2 linked regions of the Homo sapiens genome follow. The protein of the gene in region 1 interacts with the protein of each later gene in a pairwise test. Each region holds a gene or a part of one and is shown on either strand. Other genes may lie near its edges.

What was found. Proteins that work in one complex are often made in the same cells at the same time.
Region 2: the proteins of ZNRF2 (region 1) and UBE2W interact in a two-hybrid assay, tested with the Homo sapiens proteins (one study listed by BioGRID).

The regions. Positions count from the first base shown.
Region 1 is NC_000007.14:30,287,586-30,294,619, reverse strand, and holds part of ZNRF2 (E3 ubiquitin-protein ligase ZNRF2), read right to left. Parts: intron 5,863-7,034; exon of another isoform or gene 5,788-5,862; intron 4,827-5,787; exon of another isoform or gene 4,730-4,826; intron 1-4,729. UniProt on the Homo sapiens protein: E3 ubiquitin-protein ligase that plays a role in the establishment and maintenance of neuronal transmission and plasticity. Ubiquitinates the Na(+)/K(+) ATPase alpha-1 subunit/ATP1A1 and thereby influences its endocytosis and/or degradation.
Region 2 is NC_000008.11:73,819,863-73,826,896, forward strand, and holds part of UBE2W (ubiquitin-conjugating enzyme E2 W), read right to left. Parts: intron 5,388-7,034; coding exon 5,285-5,387; intron 1-5,284. UniProt on the Homo sapiens protein: Accepts ubiquitin from the E1 complex and catalyzes its covalent attachment to other proteins.

The DNA of each region.
Region 1 (7,034 bases):
GTAGAGATGGGGTTTCACCATGTTGTCCAGGCTGGTCTCGAACTCCTGACCTCAGATGATCCACCCACCTGGGCCTCCCAAAGTGCTAGGATTACAGGCATGAGCCACAGTGCCCAGCCACGGTGCAATATTTCTAAATTAACACTAGAAGTAACGAAAGGGTACTAGTAAGGACCACCACAATAAAGCCACACTTTAAAATAACTTCCAAGTAAAAGAAAATATCGAAATGCAGTTAACATGATTATTCCCCGATAGAACTGATTTTAAAAGAAACAAAAATGTGTACTCAATGATAATGAAAATGGTAAGTATCCAAAGCTTTGGGAAGTGACTATATGTAACAAGAAGTAAACACAGCCTTAAACGCTTTTATCATTAAAAAATAATAAATAAAAAATAAAAGAAGCTAAGAGAAAGAACAAAATTAACTTTACAAAATGAGAACGAACAGAATAGAGGTAACAGTAGAAAAAATTAAAAACCAACAAAAATAGCAAAATGTGTTGTTCAAACTGAGCACTGGCTCTCTGAAACATATTACACATAATCCTGCCTGGGCAATATAGCGAGACCCTGTTCTCCACAAAAAGGAAAGAAAAAAAAGACAATAAAAATAAAAATAAATAACCCATTATGTATGCATGGCTTCATTCTTCTTTTTTTCCTCAGCTCACATATAAATAGGTAAATTAAAGAACTATTACAGACTAATCACAATTCAAGCAAAAATTAGGATATTCCACATGGTCGGAACTTATGAAATTCAAATGACTGAATACATCTATAATTTTCTGACACACTAATATTTTCGTCGCTAAAAAAAGAGCCCTGAATGAAATAATGACTCTGATAGGTGACATTACTCGAAATATATCCACCAATCTGCACTTATAAATATCAAAAACCTCACAAGTTTTTATGGGTTAAAAAATTTTACGTAGTCCCAAAGATTATACCTTGCTAGAAGCTGTTTCCATCTCTAATGAGCAATTTGGCAATAAAGATCCAATGCCTTGAACAAAAGTGTATCTTTGTTTCTGGCAATCCCATGTCGCTGATAAATTTCTAAGAACTGGCCGGGCACTCAGGCCTGTAATCCCAGCACTTTGGGAGGCTGAGGTGGGCGAATCACTTGAGGCCAAGAGCTCAAGACTAGCCTGGCCAACATGGCAAAACCCAGTCTCTACTAAAAATACAAAAATTAGTGAGGCATGGTGGTGCACACCTGTAATCCCAGCTACTTGGGAGGCTGGGGCACAAGAATCACTTGAACCTGGGAGGCAGAGGTTGCAGTGAGCCAAGATCGCACTACTGCACTGTAGCCTGGGTGACAGAGCAAGACTCCATCCCAAAAAAAAAAAAAAAAAATGTAAAAATTTGCTTACCAGGGTGTTCATGGCAACAGTATTTTATTACATCTGTACCAAACAAACAAAATGCTCAACCATAAGGAACAACGAAATAAATCCTTGACTCTTCATTTTCTCTCATACCTCCACATCTAATCCAGGTGGCTCTATCTTCAAAACACGGGATATGCAGAATCTGGCCACTGCTTAGCACCTCCAGCACTGCCACCCAGTCCAAGCCACTGTTATCTTTCATCTGGATTTTTGCCTCCTTGCTGACTCTTGCCACCTCACACAATAGCCAGAGTAATCCTTTAAAACCCAAGTCAGATTATGTCAATCCTCTGCACAAAAATACTCCCCATCCCTCTTTAAAACAAAAGCCGCAAACCACAGGTCAGTGGTTATGAGGCAGTTTATGATTCTGTCCCAACCTCATGCCACCCCACTATGCTCTCATCTTCTACAGCCCTCTGCACTCCAGCTGTAAGTAAACCTACATATCAGGTACACTCATGCCTCAGGGCCTTTATAGTTACTGCTCCCTGTGCCTGAATATGTTTTTACCCCAGAGATCCTCATGACTTGCTCCTTCACTTTCTGCTTGAATTGTCACCTTGTCAGTGAGGTCATCCTTAAAACCCGATTTAAAATAGCAACTATAGATAGGCCTCCACCCCAGAATCTCTATCAGCCTTTGCACTCCATTTTTTTTCCATTACACTCAATGCCCTAACACACTATGTATTTTACTTGTCTGTTTACTATCTCTCCCAAATAGAATAATAAGGCCCCTAAAAGCAGGGATTTTTATCTTATTTCTTCACTGCTGTACCCCCAGAATAGTGTCCGGAAAAGCGCGTCCTCATTAAATATTTGAGTGATTTTTGGAATACTGGGTAATAATTAAAAATCATGTTATAAAAAATTTTAATGTGATGTTAGAAACTGGTGGAAATGGAAACAGCATGTTATCAAAGAATATGTAACCCATGGATCAAGAAGAAATCATATGGGAAATTAAAATACATTTTTCACTGAATGTTAACAAGAACACTTCAACATCAGTGGGATTCAGGTAAAGCAATTCTTGGAGGAAAATGTGTAGCTTTAAAACTTTGTATTAGAACATCAGAAAGGTTAAAATCAAAACAATATAAAAATGAATGTTCCAAATTTTGTGTCTAAAACAAATACATATATAAAAGACATTAACAGTTATTTCTGGTGGTAAAATTACAAGCAATTTGCGATTTTTATACCTGCTTTTCCGTATGTTAGTTTTTCTCTAGTGAACAGGTATTATTTTTATAATTAAAAAAAAACCCAGGTTTTTAAAAAACTTCCTTTCCCTCTGGTTGAATTCTAACTGCTGGCCTCTTCCTCTCCCTGTCTCTTAAAATACTTGCTCCTCTGGATTCCATCCTTGTCCTTCGTCAATCTATATTCATCCCTTAGTAATCTTATCCACTTTCTGGATTCATTTATAACTTGCAAATTGATTTCTCAGTTTTTTGTAATATCCTGAATTAGAGACTCATGTTTCCAACCACTTAAAGTATACTTCTATCCAGATGAAAATCCTGTAGCCACTCAAATTTAACAGGCCTGAAAGGAACTCATTATCATTTCCTAAAACTTGTTCTTTTCATCTTTAATACTGGTTAAAGACATCACTATGTACCCAGGTCAATTCTATCAGTTCTAGCTTAGAAATCTCAATCAAATCTAACTTTTCTTCTCCCTCACCAATGCCATGTTTTCAACATAGGCATCTTCTATCAGTTATATTTTAAAAGAATCCTAACTTATTCTCCTGCTATCACACTCTCCTCCTTAAGAACTGAATCCTGATCAGGGTTGCTGCATACAGCCTGAAGTCTGCACCACTAGAGAAGGTTGCCATCCATGTAAACTACGAGTGTTAATTGTGCCCAATGGCCTAATCATGATACTCCCCCTGCTTTCAAACTTCATTAGATAAAACAAACCTACAGCACTATAAAATCTTTCAACTGGCTCCACTTTCTATTTTTCTAGCTTCAGGTTCTCATCATTCCTCTATGCACCCTACAATCCAGACATATTTAACTTTTCAGTATGCCCTATCAAAACCCACACTTTTGTGGATTTTTCTTTAGTCTGTACTGCCCTCTCTCCGTACAACTTCTAAATCCTTCAAACTACAGTTCAAACGTACCCTCCTCTGTGAAGCATTTTTTGACCAGCCTAGACAAAGATACTTCACTAAGTGTTTTGTTAACAGTTCTATTACAGAATTTGTTGCATTGTATAATGATCACATATATCCATCTCTCAAATTCAATGGAGAGTTGAGCAGTGCATAAAGAAGCTCCATATTTGTACCCTCAGTATCTATAATGTCCAGCCCCTAAAAGGGGTTAAGTTCATGTTTATTAATGCTATACTTAACCATATGCATTAGTACAACTTTTTAAAAGTAAATTAAAATGAGTTTAAAAAAGAAGTTACATGTTCAGCTGTCAATCTATCTATAATCCATGTGGCAGAAAGAACTGATGTGACTATTCTTGATTCCTACACTTCCTGGTGTTTAAACCTTTGTATAATTCCCTCCCCTTGCACGTGAACTGGACCTATGACTTGCTTCTAATGAATGAAATACAGCAAAGGCAATGGGTTGTATGTGATTACATGTACACGATTATGTAAGAACATAGCACCAGTTCACCTTTCCTTTGCTTACTTTGAAGAAGCAAGCTGCTCTGAACCTAACAGACACAAGGAAATAAATTCAGCCAATAACCCAAGGAAGTCTGTGGGCAGACCTTTCCCCAGTTGAGTCACTAGATAACAACCCTGCCCTGACCTACACTTTGACTGCAGTCTTAAAGAGGACACAGCTAAGTTGTGCCCAGCCTCTTGACCCACAGAAATTGCAAGGCAATAAACGTGTTGCTTAGAACCACTAAATTTGCAGTCATTTGTGAATAAGCAGCTTAGAAAACGAATAAAATCAGAACCTAAGGTATTTCTGAACCCTTTGTTCACAAAAAGGCCTATGTTTTGTCCAATTTCTTAACAAATAAATGTCATGTACATGCAAAATTAAAACACAGACTAACATTTCAAATAACAGTTCTTAAGAATATTCACATAAAACTTAGGAAGTAATTTGCTACATAAAGCAGTTCCTACACTCTCTTTTAACACATTTGCCAATATACCCAATTATACATAATACTACATGTAATAAGTTTAATATTAGGGCAATTCTCCTTAAAACCCAAATAATAATAAATAGTTTAAAAGTTGATATCTCATTAATGATATTTGGTAATCAGAAGAACTTAGTTACTGGTCACCAGGCAAAGCGATCAAATTGGAGGAGAGCAAGAGACTTGTTGGAGATGTGCCTGAGGGAGTAAGACACTATCTTACAACAACAGGGCTCTTACTCCCTCAGGCACTGCACCAGCCAGCAAAGCATCAAAATACCAGGTTCTTAGGTCACGCTGCTCTCAGATCAGGTGATGCCCTGTGCAACTCACCAATCCTCCCCACCTTGCAGTCAAGAATAATTCCAAAAAATTCCCAAAGCAGAAACTTCCATGACACAGGCCACACTTACACACAGCAAAACATGTAACACGAAGGTATGAAATTACAAGTGAGGAACAATAACCACCAAAATTCTTATTACTTCAGGAGTGGCAGGGGTTGTGGTTAGAAGGCTCATTTTTCTTAGAAAGAGGCAAACATTCCTCTTCGGCCACTCCCCATAAAAGCCTTCAATGGCACAAAATAACATTCAGGAATAGGAAATAGATTAATTACAATATCCCAAATTCAAACATTTTGGCACTTGATATTGGTAAGAAGTGATAACTGAGACCGATTCCATAATGGTTAATTGATGAAGATAACCTAACACCATAAAACTTCACATCTGCCTTAAAAATTAAGAGAAATCTTCCTAGAAATACAGGTCTTATTCAACATATTCAGTTTTAAGAGATAACCCACACTCCTTCAATATAAGAAAACATGTTTCACAAGTAGCAAGGCACCTGAGTTACAATCAGACTACTGAAATACTCATGAGCAAGCCACACCCAAAAAAGCTCAAGAAAATCAGGAGGCCAAAAGCAACCCAGCACCACTGGTTGTCTTAGATTAAGTCATTTTACATTTTCACTTCTGGACTCAAGGATACATTATAGAAGTCCACACGATTTCTCTGGAAATAATCTCCATGTATTGGTATATTTCTATAGCCCAATTCATCTACCCCATCCTTGCTGCATCATTAAAGGCTATTTGACCACTCATATTATGCTCTTATGAACAACAGCTACTTGACAGTGGAAAAAAAAACGTAGACGTAAATTAAAGCCAAACAAACCCTAAAATACCATCAACATTTTTAAATATTAGGAAATACCCTTAAGACCTGTTTTAAAACAAAGGTGATGGACGACACTAGCAGTAGTCAAGAAAGCGTCTGTTCACTTTAACACTCCTCAGTCTGAAAAGAATAATAAGGACAAGATTTACTTCACCTAAAAACTCCTATATAAATATAATCACATTCTGATGTCTGGCAACTCAATTCTAGGAAATTTCTACACACTGAAATATCTGGATTAGGCATTTTTCTTCCAGTTCTCTAGAGAGAATAAGAGTGTATATAGCCAAAACAGATGTCCAAATGACATCAAAACATAAAACCAACACAGAAAACTTCCTCGTTCAATGTGGCAATTCATTATGAGAGAACTACTAACAATTCCACTTGCTAGACTCTTAAGTGTTAAAAATAAAAGGGGGGGACTGTTTTTCATTTTCTATAAATTACATGAGAGCTCACAAGAGAATAATTTTGAATCTTATTAGTACCACATTTTCTTATTAGGAGACGTTAATAATATAAACAACAATTAAAACAACAGTTTTACAAAAAACAATACGAACTTTCCACTAATTCTGAAATAATCCTTTTATCAATTTTCAGATGCAGTTATTTGTATATAACCATTTATACAATTTGTAACTGAATAAACACAATAATGTTATAATAGATACTAAAAAGTTAAGTAAATGTGAACTAGTCAAGTCTTTTTTAATTATAAGATTCTTCATTTAGCTCCCTAAATCTCAAGATGATGAGAAACATGCTTCTATTGTTTTCCTAATAACCCGTCCACTAAAATATAGGTAAAAATCTCAGTAAGGCAATGCCACTAAGATGGGTTTTTACGTAAATGTATTCCATCTCCCTGCCTCAACAGAGATTTCAGGATGTGGCACTTTCATCTGATCCTGTCATATAATAAGAACAGGTAATTTCTCTGATGTCTTTCCAGCAATTCTCAACTGAGGTTCCTCATCTGAATCACCAAACACAGGAAATTATTTCAGTGACTTTTCTCAATTGTTCCAAGAATGATACATAACTAAAACCGTTCTAAATGCACTGGAGCTAAAAGTTAAAATTCATTGCACACTACGGCACAATTGTCTCCAGAAAGCCGGGTGAGAAAGGCTGCTGTAAGTTCCTCAGAAAGTGTCACTGTACTACTAGGCCCCAGTCACCCAACCCCAACAGCACTAAAAGAACTATAATGAGTGCACAAATCTAGAACTTAGATAAGAAAAAAGATAAATGCTTTATCTCCAACTTTAAGCAACTAGGTATTT
Region 2 (7,034 bases), on another chromosome or scaffold:
ACAAAAGCAGTAATTTCACAATGAGATTCATCTATTCTAGAAATATTTTCCAAATTCTACTCTTGTAACTAGTGATAAACTCAGTACTGTTCATTGCATAGAAAGATGAAAGACTTTTCTTTCTTTTTTTTATTAGAGATGGGGTTGCCCTACGTTGCCCAGGCTGGTCCCAAAACTCCTGGGCTGCCTTGGCCTCTCAAAGTGCTTGGATTACAGGCATGAGTACCATGCCCAGCCAGAAAGATGAAAGACTAATTTAGGTAACAAGTGCTAATGCTACAGAGTTTCATCAAATAAAATTTTGGGGGAATTTTACTGCCCTAGAGGACTGGTTCTAGCCACTTTCCCAGGGCAGTGGATCTCTGCAAAGTTTCAGTTATTGGAAAAATCTTGAAGTCTATAAGCACATCAAGCATTGATGTTTGACCCATTATAATTATGTTAAAACTATATAGATTATGTATAAATACATTTTAAAAAATTTTAACGTATTACTGGCCTCAGAGTAGTTCTGCCATTTTCCCAATCAATGGATATTAGAATATACAACCTCTATGCCATGTGAGGGACTACAGAATTAACTGATATTAAAAAGGAATCCTCACTGGGCGTGCCTATGATCCCAGTACTTTGACAGGCCGAGGCGAGCAGATCACTTTAGGACAGGAGTTCAAGACCAGCTGGACCAACATGGTGAAACCTTGTTTCTACCAAAAATACAAAAAAAAATAAGCCAGGCATGGTGGTGCATACCTGTAGTTGCAGCTACTCAGAGAGGCTGAGGTGGGAGAATGGTTTAAGCCCAGGAGGCAGAGGTTGCAGTGAGCAGAGATCACACCACTGCACTCCAGCCTGGGCAACAGAGCGAGACTCTGTCTCAAAAAAATAAAAAACAAACAAACAAACAAACAAACAAACAAAAAAACAAAATAAAAAAACCAAGCCAGGCATGGCGGCAGATGGCTGTAGTCCCTGCTACTCTGGAGGCTGAGGTGGAAGGATCACTTGAGCCCAGGAGTTGGAGGCTGCAGTGAGCTATGATTACACCACAGCATAGGTAGATGACAAAGGGAGACTCTGTCTCCGCACCCCCACCCCACCAAAAAGTAAATTAAAAAAGGAATCCTTATATTTCAAAAAGAGTGAGAATAACTGACCTAGAGCTTTCAAAGGTACCATTCATTCCACATATAATCTTTCACTTTCAGAGAGAAAATTACTACATAGATAAATAGGCATTTTTTCCACACCGGTACTCGCATCTAATTGGCAGTATGGCAAAGGAGGAAAGGAAAGACTTGGGTTTGGGTCTTGACTGTCCTATAAACTAGGTATTAAAACGTGAACAAGGCACTTCACTTCTACAAGTTTCAATTTCTTCACATATAAAATGAGGATGAATCTACCTCCCCTAACCACTTCATTAAAAGATGTTAGAAAACAAAATCAGAATGGAAGTTAAATTATGAAGTACTATATAGAAATATTACCATACAGAATGCATGCAGGTGCAGAAAAAGTTAAGTTTGGATGTGACTATACAGGGACTTGAATGCCAGGCTAAAAACTTGATTCCATAGGAAATAAACATTAAGAGGTTTTACTGTCAGGGGGTGAGGAATTCTGGGGATGGTGGAGTGAGACAGAGTGTGTGTGTGGTGGGGGGGTGGAGTGGGGTGTGGGAGTGTGTGTGTGGGGGGGGGGGGATGTGTGTGCATGTCCATGTGTGTGGTATGTAACCAGTGAGATAACTGTGCCTTCAAACAAATCTATTGGCACCGTGAAAGGATGTAGGAATTCAAAGAACTAAAGGCTACTGTAATGGTTCAAATAAAAGATAAAAACCTGGACTAGGCCAGGCATGGTGGCTCACACATGTAATCCCAGCACTTTGGGAGGCCAAGGAGGTGGGCTGATCGCTTGAGCCCAGGAGCTCGAGACTAGTCTGGGCAACATGGCAAGACCCCATCTCTACAAAAAATATAAAAATTAGCTGGGTGTGCCATCAGATGGCCAAATCATTATTTACTGGACCAGACCTTTTCAAAACTATCAAGCAGATAGTCAAGGCCTGTAAAGTGTGCCAAAGAAATAATCCCCTGCACTGCAGGCCATACATTTCAATCCCTCTATCTTTAACCTCCTTGTTAAGTTTGTCTCTTCCAGAATTGAAGCTGTAAAACTACAAATCGTTCTTCAAATGGAGCCCCAGACAGTCCATGACTAAAATCTACCACAGACCCCTGGACCGGCCTGCTAGCCCATGCTCCAATGTTAATGACATTGAAGGCACCCCTCCTGAGGAAATCTCAACTGCACAACCCCTACTACGTCCCAATTCAGCGGGAAGCAGTTAGAGTGGTTGTCGGCCAACCTCCCCAACAGCACTTGGGTTTTCCTGTTGAGAGGGGGCACTGAGAGACAGGACTAGCTGGATTTCCTAGGCCGACAAAGAATCCCTAAGCCTAGCTGGGAAGGTGACCGCTTCCACCTTTAAACACAGGGCTTGCAACTTAGCTCACACCTGACCAATCAGATAGTAAAGAGAGCTCACTAAAATGCTAATTAGGCAAAAACAGGAGGTAAAGAAATAGCCAATCATCTGTTGCCTGAGAGCACAGAGGGAGGGACAACGATCAGGAAATAAACCCAGACATTCGAGCTGGCAACAGCAACCCCCTTTGGGTCCCCTCCCTTTGTATGGGAGCTCTGTTTTCACTCTATTAAATCTTGCAACTGCAAAAAAAAAAAAAAAAAAAAAAAAAAAAAAAATTAGCTGGGTGTGGTGGCATGCACCTGTAGTCCCAGCTGCTTCGGAGGCTGATATGGTAGGATCACTTGAGCCCAGGTGGCAGCAGTTGCAGTGAGCCAAGATTGCACCACTGCACTCCAACCTGGGTGACAAAGCGAGACGCTGTCTCAAAAAAAACAAAACAAAAACAAACAAACAAAAAACCAGACTACAGCACTGACATTAAGAAAAGAATGGGCTACCTTTCAAATGTAGGAGGGAGGAGTGTGGAAAAGAGAAAAACTGAGCACAAAAATAGACAGGTGGACAGTAACCCAGGATAAAGAAAAACAAAATGTTCTTTGTTATTGGAAAGATCAAGTTTAGTTGTGTTAAATTTGAGATGTCTGGAGGTACTCAAGTATTTCAACAAGGGTGTGAAATTAAGCCTTAAAAAAAGAAGTGTTCCCAGAGCTGTAGATCTGGGAGTTAGCTGCTTAAGGTGACTGAAGGTGAAAGAAGAGTGAGAAGAGTAACACAGTGCTGAATAAAGAACCTGGATAACACCAATGTTAGAAGAACAGACAAATAAAATCAGGGAAGGAGGATAAAATGAATTTGAAATAGGACAATAGGGAGAATTTATTACAAATGCTGTAACTTACAGAAATATTAAAGAAGAAATTCAACATAATGTTTAAGTTTGATATTTGATTTAGAATTAAATATTAAGGAAAGAGTTTAGAGAACACATTTTTGACTTGGTTTCATGCTTACAGAAATATTATTTTCCTCTGGTGAAAAATCTGTAAGCTCCCAGAGTAAGCCTTCCCCCAATATCTCCCTAGTCAAAAGCTTTTGAATTGGTGTGAAATATTCTTCCTTCCCATACCATCATTGAACTTAGTTGAAGGTAGACAAATAGGCTGATGATGAAAACAGACTGAGATCCTGTTGTCTCCACACATTTACAGTCAGAAATGATGCTGGCCAGCCAGAAAGCAACAAAAGTGATGACAATCTTCTGGAGAGAAGATGTTTGTTCTTTTTATTATAGTCTACAAATGCTTATTGTAGACATCTAGAGGTCACAATAGCACATACCCTTTCACTTTAACTTTTATGAAAATGATAAAAATAAGTCCTAAAAGTCTTGGTAGTTTTCTGCTCATATGAAAATTTTAGAACTTAAGGAGTCAGTATCCATTTAAATCTATGCTTTAAAACAATTATCTCTTTACTTATAGCATGATACAATAACTGACTTTATCTCTTCTCTTACATAACTAAGAAAAGATTAAGCTGTGTTTGGTATATTGTTTAAAGTGACAATGAAATATGATTTTCCTCCAAATAGTACATTTCAGCACCCAACAAGCAAAATTTTCAGTATCTGGGAAATATTTCAGGTATTTGGTTGTATTTTCCAGAATAGCTCATTTGCTAGCAATACTAGAGAGAGCTGGCATCATGTCTTACCATTTTAGCCAACGGATCTCACAAGCCTCAAATTTTAAAAATGAAGTGCTTTGTTATAATTCTCTGAAGAATAAGTAATTATAGTAACTCATTTACTTATCTTACCAAGCCAGAAACCTGGAAGTCATCCTAGAGTCTTCCTTTCTCTAACCTGATTAATCATTTACTATAGTTAAATAGCTCTCAAAAAACATTTCTCTACCACCATTATCCCTTGTCTAAGTATTAAGCTATTAACTAAACTCACTGGGCATCAAATTATAATAATCAGACTTTGTGCTGATGTTTAGATATTTAACATCTGATGATGTACTCTGCCCTTCCTGTACTAAAAGGCTGCAAGGACAGCATGTCAATGCAAAATCATAGTACTCCTTCCAACAGAGAACTTTTCTCTTCACCATGTGATTCTACCATCTGACCTAGGAGAAGTGCCTCCAGTTATTCCAAAATGTCAACTTCTCCGATGGCCTAGAGCAGTGGTCCCCAATCTTTTTGACACAAGGGACCGGTGTGATGGAAGACAATTTTTCCATGGATGGGGTTGGGGATTGGATGATGGTTTTGGGATGGAACTGTTCCATCTCAGATCATCAGGCATTAGATTCTCATAAAGAGCGTGCTATCTAGATCCCTCACATGTGCAGTTCACAATAAGGCTCGTACTCCTATGAGAATCTAATGCCATCGCTGATCTGACAGGAGGCAGAGCTCAGGCAGTAATGCTGCTCACCTCCTGTGTGGCCCGACTCCTAACAGGCCATGGACCAGTACTAGTCCACAGCATGGGGGTTGGGGACCCCTGGCCTAGAGGCCTGGTTAGATTTCTATTCCCTTTTCTGTTAGCATTTATGGATAAGCAACAAATGAAACAATTTTAGAAGCAAAATGCAGTAAAGCCCTAATCCCAATAAAGTGTAATGTTCATATCTTGATTATATGACAAATAAGATAATGAAATAACAAATCCATCTACATACGTATAACTGATTTATATGTTTTTACTGAGTCAAACATCTCTGGCATTTAGCTATCTAAAAATACAAAAAAAAAAATTTAAAGCAAGGCAATTACCTGAGGAGAGTCAAAAGGATATCGACTACTAAATTTAAATAGAAGTTGAAATTTTTCCCCTTCATATAAGGTACCTGGTGCACCTTCCATGTCTACAATCCACCTAGAATAGAAAAGGCAAATTAAAAACTTAAGATAATAGAGACTGGGGTAAGGAGGAGAAAAGAGGACACCAAGTACTTCCTATACACTAAGCACTAGGACAAGAGTTGGTTATGTGTAACAGCACATGCCAGCCTCCCAATAACTCTCTTACTGTTAATTCTCATGACCTATCCCCTTCTCTGACACTCAGCGGTGAAATAACCAGATCAAGGTCAGACAGCTAGCAAAAGACAGAGCCAGGTCTAAAAAAGCAAACTAAATAAAACCCAAGGCCGGGTGTGGTGGCTCACACCTGTAATCCCAGAACTTTGGGAGGCCAAGACAGGCAGATCACGAGGTCAGGAGTTTAAGACCAGCCTGACCAACATGGTGAAACCGGTCTCTACTAAAAATACAAAAATTAGCCGGGCATGGTGGTGTGCACCTGTAATCCCAGCTACTCAGGAGGCTGAGGCAGGAGAATCGCTTGAACCCGGGAGGCAGAGGTTGCAGTGAGCCAAGATCATGCCACTGCACTCCAGCCTGGGCTACAGGGCAAGACTGTCTCAAAATAAACAAACAAACAGACCTCAAACTAAGGTGCACTGACACCAAAGCCTGTGCTCCTCCTAATTGATTTATACTACCTTATTTTTTCAAAGTACCATTTCTACAATGCTGATATTACGTATTCTATACATAACATCAAACAAAGCAACTGCCTCTGATTATTACTGGTGGAAGCCATGGAGAAATACGTATAGACAATGACCACAGAGAACCGTAGCTGTCAGACTTATTTTTTTCATCAACATCCTAGAGAAGATTAACAGGGCAAGGGGAGCTAAATTGACATCAGTCCACTTACTCTGATGATTAAGCAAGGCTTTGTGGTGACTTTCCTTTATCTCTCACTATGTTTCAATTGTTTAATAAAGCCCATTTCTATGCCATCTATGCAAGCCTTTGTTTTCATATATAACAATCATAAACATAAATGTGTTATTTACAGTTTATATACTATTCTTGTTATTTTCTTTAAGATGGGAAGAATAAGGGATAATGACAGCAAAGATAACAGGGCAGCATTAGAAGCAAAAGTGAATTGAAGTCATTAACAATGTGTTCCTAATTATAGCTCTGTCACTTATAATTCTTGTACACCTGGGCAATTCTCTTGAACTTTTCAGTTATTAAACTTTCTTGTATTTAAAATACAAGAAAACAAAAGGAAGATAGAAAATACAGTGTTGGGATTCTAGTCATCACCACGCATACTATGAACCTTGGATTATGTAAAATAATAAATGTACCTATTCTCTAAAAGAAATCAGCTACAGTATACAGACTCTTAAGAGCATGGCTATTCATTTTAAGAATGCACGCTGAGTACCATACATGGTAATAAAAGATACGACCACAGACCCAAGAGACAATATTTTATAGTGAAATTAGACAGTTATAACTGAAGTTATACTGAAGTCGCAGTTATAGTTAATCTTAACTCATTGTGTGAACAAGTTATGTTATCTCTCCAGTTTTAACTACCTCAATAATAAAACAGAAGATAATCACCTCATAGTGTTGTTGGAAAGATAAATGACCCTACATACGTAAAAAACCTAGCACATTCCTGACTCAGTCAATACATGGTAAATTAAATGCA